Homo sapiens: one gene and its partner. The protein of the gene in region 2 purifies or fractionates together with the protein of the main gene of each other region. This does not show direct contact. Each region holds a gene or a part of one and is shown on either strand. Other genes may lie near its edges.

The links.
Region 1: the proteins of ZNF200 (region 2) and GABPA purify together in Homo sapiens (affinity purification with mass spectrometry; one large-scale study listed by BioGRID and IntAct). This does not show direct contact.

What each region holds. Positions count from the first base shown.
Region 1 is NC_000021.9:25,755,472-25,758,971, reverse strand, and holds part of GABPA (GA-binding protein alpha chain), read right to left. Parts: intron 963-3,500; coding exon 768-962; intron 1-767.
Region 2 is NC_000016.10:3,228,659-3,232,158, forward strand, and holds part of ZNF200 (zinc finger protein 200), read right to left. Parts: intron 1-3,500. UniProt on the Homo sapiens protein: Localizes protein arginine N-methyltransferase PRMT3 to the nucleus.

The sequences.
Region 1 (3,500 bases), on a different chromosome or scaffold from region 2:
CAACCTCCCAAGTAGGTAGGACTACAGACACGCACCACCTTGTCCGCCTATTTTTTGTATTTTTAGTGGAGATGGGGTTTCACCACGTTGGCCAGGCTGGTCTCGAACTTCTAACCTCAAGTGATCTGCCTGCCTCATCCAATTTCTTTACATGGTCACTTAATCATAATAATGTCTGAAGCCTTACAAGTTATAAGTGGAAAAACTTATAACCAATGGCTTCCAATGCCAAAAGGTGGCTGCATACACTTCCTTCCCTCTTAAGACTCTATTCAATTAATAGTAAAGACTTCAAAAAAGATTTAATCTCATCAATAATGAAGAGAATGGGTAGGAAGCCACCTGTAAACAAATGATCTCTTCCGTTTCTAGATGAGCAGTAAATGTAAGAGCTGATCAAACAGAAGGCAACAAATGGAATATATGAAGAGGGCTAAGTGTAGGGCACAGCATCTGATTTAAGAACTTGGATTCTAATGTTAGCCTGGGCTTGAATCCTGGCTCTGCCACTTCCTAGCTGTGACTTTATGGGGCTCTCAAAGCCTCACTTTCCTATCTAAAAAATAAGCAAAGTAATGACTTATGGTGTTACTATAGGAATTAAAGAACATATAGAGCTTTCAGCATAGCATTATACAGTAAATAAATGTTAATTATTATTGCTTATTACTTATCATTATCAATAAACAACTAAGATGAAAACAAAGTTACAAGGAAATAAAATTAAGCTTAAATTACAATGTAAAGAAATAACTGTAATTTCATACATTTTCGGAGAAGTTCCAGATGACTCCAGAGAATTTCTCCCCGAGGAACCCGCTGAAAAAAATCTTCTTGGTTGAGACTACATAATTCTCTCCCCGAAATGTTGAGTGTGGTGAGGTCTATATCGGTCATGCTGAATTCCTTCATTACCCAAACCACCCAATGCAGGACTTGGTCTGTGGACCACTGTATGGGATCTAGAAAGAAAAATATTCACTTTAGCCTAGTTCCATTTTAGATACTGTGTAAATTTACAGTTAACTTCTCAATACACACACATACACACAGATGTTTTCTTTCCCCAAGTATATGAGGTAAACTTACTATATGAAGCAAAAAAAAAAAAAAAAAAAAAAATTATGCTGTAATTTTTTCCTCAGCTCCTTTCCAATTTCTTAATCTAAATTTCTGATGCAGTCACTTGGTTCAACCTCAGCTGGAACTGTATCAAGAAAAACAAAATGCAAAACTGCTCTCCAGTGGGCCAAATGAAAGAATAAAATATGAGATTATTCTGGAGAGAATAAAGTAAATTATCCAAGTTTAAAAAAATTTGCAGTTGCATTGAAAAAAAATCAAAAGGGGATTCTAAGAAGCTAGCTTTATTCTCCAAACTATGAACCATATCCTTTTTCCTCCCTTTTCCTTCCTGTAAAAAGCTGGCTGCTCCTGCATTTACCCTTATGATGCATTTCCAATAAATAAATAAACATGGTAATTGCCTGTTTTACTCAGCTGTCCCCTCACAACACACTAAGAAATACAAGAAATGTGTCTTGTAAACCATTCTATCTTTAGAACCTAACAGTGCCTTGCTCATACACTTGTTTAATCTTAAAGAGTATATCCAAATAATTTTCCTTTTCCCTATCATTTACTACCTAATTGAATTCATAAATAAAAAAATATGGCCAATATCTATAAATATTACATTGCTGTATCACCCGCACCTAATAGAGCATTCTATCTGTGTAAGTTTAATACATATTAGCTAAATTAGTTTTGGTTCTGGTACTCCCACTTTAAGAAGATGATCTATTCAAATAATATTGGTTATATACCCAATAAATAAATGCTATTCAATAAGAAAAGTAGAAAAAAAATAACATTTAGGTATCGAGGGCAAATTATAGTGAAAATAAATCAAACATAAGAATTTTATAAAAGTTCTTCAAAGAGGCAAAGTGCTATTGAAACTGAAACTATTCCATTTGAGACTAAAGGAACAGAGGTGCCCTAGCCTCAAAAGGCAAAAGCAAGCATTCTAAGAATACAGGATTAATAGCCACAGAATATATATTTTAAAATTTTTCCATAAAGTTGTTAAGTGAGGATTCTAGGAAGATGGTGGCAAAGTTTTTTAATTTTTCTGAATTGTACACATAAACATAAAAAAGTGACTGGAGAACAAAACCAAAAACCCACGAACATTTACATAAAACCAGGTGACAAGATATCTTCATGGACCTCAAGATACAAGAGGGTAAAGACAAAGCAATAACAGCTATAAGACCTCCATGGTCTTAGCTTGTGTGCAGGAGAAAGCAAAGGGAAGCAAGGGAAGTGTGACCCACTCTGATCATAGGAAAACCTGAGCGCAGCCAAGAAGCATGCATTCAAAGTACAACAGGACAAGATGAAAGCAACGCTAAAAAGCAGTTTCGCCCAATCCAATAGCTGCAGTGTGTGTTAAGATTTAAAGGGCTGAAGCAATGTAGCACCTGGGTGTTTGTCAAACTGAGCCAAGAACCACTTTCAGGAGAATGGCCCACAGTAAGGAGAAACTGGCAGAGTGGAACTAGAAGTGAGCAGCAGAGGGACGCCAAGGAAAAGGAAAGAGGAGAAGGCCCAGGTAAAAGTCGACAAGAACTGAAAAAGAAAGTTGCCTTATCTGTGAGTACTATACTACTTGAAAACAACAGAAGCAGAGTTAAATAGAAAAGCTATCCTGAAACACACCTCTTTTAAAAGAAAAACAAAGTTAATTTCACATAAAAATTTAAAAATAAAAAAAACTCAGGGAAAAATATAATTTGTCTGATTTGTTTTCTCAAATATCAGGACTTCTGGTTTAACATAACTAATTGTCCACCCATGTTCTGCCTCCTTTCTCTAAGACTCTAGTAAAACAACAGTAAAGGAATTTTTAAAAGATGCAAAATCATAGGAACATGAGTACAAAGTGACAGGCATGGATGAAAGATTTAATCTAATGTTTTGAAGACAATAAGCAGAGTGGTAATCGATTTGGCATAGGAGGGGAAAACTATGACCTAAAATGTTTGCCAAGGAGGATGCCAGTAAGAAGTGAGAGAATTCCTGCCTGCAGAACCCCCTTCACTGGTTCAAGTCATGGTGGTTCTGAGTAGCAAGAGGCTTAAAGCTGAAAATAAGGAGACAGATTTAAAGTAGATGGTGTGGTTAGAACCTCCAGGGTCTCTCTTTCATTTGGGGGGCCAGTTAAATGAGTGCACCCCACACATGTGGACACCGGGAAAACATTTATTAATAGATGGGGAGAGACACGAACAGACACTGAGAGAACAATTCCCAGTAATAAAAGCCTATAAACTGAAGAGTGAGACCGTCTCCACCTTCTCTACCTCCTCCCTGCTCTACTTCCTTTTCCAGTTCCACAACACAGTATTCACATACACACCTACCCCAAATGCTCACCCCTATCTTCTACTGCTGACAGGTATCTGCAAAAAGATCTATAAATATTGACACGTTTG
Region 2 (3,500 bases):
TAACTTTTGTATATTTTTTTTTTAGTAGAGATGGGGTTTTGCTATGTTGGACAGGCTGGTCTCAAACTCCTGACCTCAGGTATCACCCGCCTTTGCCTCCCAAAGTGCTGGGATTACAGCCGTGAACCACTGTGCCCAGCATGGGGACTGGATTTCAACACGAGATTTGGAGGGGACAAATATCCAAACTATATCAGCAACCTTGCGTCAAAGGGGTAAAAACAAATTAAAATTGCATATTTTTTCTAGAAAACATTATACAGACCTTCATATTCATAGGTTCTGCATCTGAGGATTCAACCAACCAAGGATTGAAAATATTTGAGAGAAAAAAAAAGGATGGTTTTGTCTGTACATATTCAGTTTTTTTGTCATTCCCTAAACAATTTAGTATAACAACTATTTATGTAGCATTTACTTTGTATTAGGTATTATAATTGATCTAGAAATAAAATATATGGTAGGATATGTGTGGAGTATATGTAAATGCTACACCATTTTATATAATGAATTTGAGCATCCATGGATTTTGGTATCTGAGTGGGGGTCCTGGAACCAATCCCCCATGAATACCAAGGACAAGTGTATATCAGAATTTATGGTATAACCTAAAGTGATGCTCATAAGAGAGCTCATGGCTGTAAAAACATGTATTAATTTAGAAAAATGAGAATAATAAAGCCTCTGATTCAAAGTTAGAAAAACAATAGGATAAATTTAAAAGAATGAAGGTATTAATAAATACCAATTAGAAAGTAATGAGTTAAAAATAGAAAAAAACTAGTAAGATTTAAGCAAAAATAAACCAATTTCCATAGAGAAAATTGAAATTATCAAAAAAAGACTAGCCACCTACCCAAGAAAAGCACCAGCCTCAGACAGTTCCACAGAAAATTCTTCTAAACTTTTAAAAATTAAATAATTCAAATGCTAGGAAAATTTCCAGAGTATAGAAAAAGAAGGTTGGGAGGCCAAGGCGGGCAGATCACAAGGTCAGGAGATTGAGACCATCCTGGCTAACATGGTGAAACCCTGTCTCTACTAAAAATACAAAAAATCAGCCGGACAAGGTGGCAGGCACCTGTAGTCCCAGCTACTCGGGAGGCTGAGGCAGGAGAATGGCATGAACCGCAGGGGGCGGAGACTGCAGGAAGCCAAGATCGCACCACTGCACTCCAGCCTAGGTGACAGCGAGACTCCGTCTCAAAAAAAAAAAAGAAGGAAACTTCCAAATTCAAACAAGAGCGAAACTCTGTCTCAAAAAAATAAATAAATAAATAAAGACAGAGAAATCTGAGCCCCAGTGATGGAGGTGGGGCCTAGTCGGAGGTGTCTGCATCATGTGGGTAGATCGCTCATGAATGGCTTGATGCCACCTCAAAATAATAAGTGATTTCTCACTCTTAGTTCACTAACAATGTGGCTGTTTAAAAGAGCCTGGCACCTTCCTACTCTCTTTCTTCCTCTCTTGCCATGTGAAGTCTGCTCTCCTTCAACCATGAGTAGTTTCTTGAAGCCCTCACCAGAAGCAGACGCTGACGCCATGCTTCTTGTACAGCCTACAGAAAACTGTGAGCCAAATAAACCTCTTTTCTTTATAAATTACCCAGCCTCAGGTATTCTTTTATAGCAGCACAAAATGTACTAAGACAGTTGCTTAAGAGTTTTAAATTTTCCAGGTGGAAGGAACTTTAATTTACTGATCTTTATTATTAATTTCTAGTTGTACTGCATTGTGACAGATCCTACTTTATTTCTACTCCTTGGAATCTGAGTCTTTGTTTGTTGCCTAGTATTTAGTCAATTTTCTTCAATCTTGAAAAGGTGTATTCTCCTATCACAGCACACAGTAGCTATAATAAGAATTATCTTACTGAAAATCTGTTTAAGTGTTCTACGTTTTTCCTTATTTTTACGTGGTTCACTTGGCCAACACACACATTCTCTGTTTCCCTAGGTTATCAAGGACTGTTCTTTGATTCCTGCCACCACAATGTTCAATCCGTTATAGTTTTTCCTTTGCAAAAATTGGTTAAATGTTACTGTTTCAATTATCATCACCTATAAATTGATGGCTCCCCAATCCCTATATCCTCACATCTGAACTCCAATCCCCAATTTCCAAATATCTGGAGGATAATCTCATTTTATTTCCCATCATGGATTCAATCTCATCCAAAATCAATTCCACCTTCTTCACTACTCTGCCCCGGGTCCAAATCTTACCTCAGTCTTGCGATAGCTCATTATACCTATAAAAATTTCACACTGCTTATCGTTTGATGAATGACTTGTCTTACAAACCAAATTGGAAGATTACAAAAGGCAAGAATATAACATCTTCGTAACCTGATGAATACAATTCCAGAACCCAATCCTGCCTGAGGAAAAAACTAGTACATTTATGAAATGCTGGTAAATGACTAAGCTTAAGCCACCAGCTTCAGGGTACGGGTGGAGGAAGTGGGGAACAGAGGGTGAGGATTGGGTCTTAGGGGCCCTGAAGTGCATAGTCGAAGTGATCTTGGAGGCAATATATCCACTAACCAGTCACCCAAAATAAATGCCAGCTCTGCCCAAGACTCAGGAAAAACTCAGTGTTAATAAATCTGATCTTTTTATCCTTTTCTCTAAAATAAAGAAGATATCACATAGAGCAACCTGCGGGAAATTAACTACACTCATTACATACCAATACTTCTGACCATACGGTATAATTACAGCTAAGAGTTTGACAGTCATAATGGATTTCTGTCACCCCAGGCAACTTCTAAAACCTATTCTCTGTACAACTTCACCCTCAGAAACAAAAAGCCCTGAAGGCAAAGTAAAAAGTGTCCGGCACTCAGTAAAGACATTTGTGCGGGCCTCTGCCTCTAGGGTTGCAACATTTCTAGAGAAAAGGTAAAGCATCTCTAAGCAAATTATAGAGAGGCTGCTGCTTGATCAGTTCATACACAGCACTGGGGGACACTTGTCAACTATTACTGGGAAATGAGGACAAATAAAGAATGCCCCATTCACCAACCATACACGGAATTCATTGACAAAATTATGAGAAATGCATCTAGGAGACAGTACAGCCCTGGGCCATTACTGCAAATTCTGATGTCAGATTCCCTGAGTCCGAATCCCTGTTCCCCTACTTACAACTGTGTGAACTTTAGCAAATTTTGTAACCCCTCTCTGCCTCAGTTCTGTCACCTGTAAGGTGGCAGTAATTTCTATACCACTCAGTATTACTCTGAGAAGTACATGAGAGAATAAACACATGAAAAGCATTTGGACTAGTGCCTAGCATGTAACAGCATATAAGTGCTCATTAAGTGTTAAACATTACTTTCACCAATAGTGGAATATATTTTCACTTAGGCTAGTAGTCTTCACATCTATTGAACATCAAAAAGGGGAGGGGGATTACAAGAGTTAGTCATGTGTTCAATGAAAACATTCAAATATACCTGTTGAGAACAGAGTTCAGAAAATGGGTTCAGAACAGT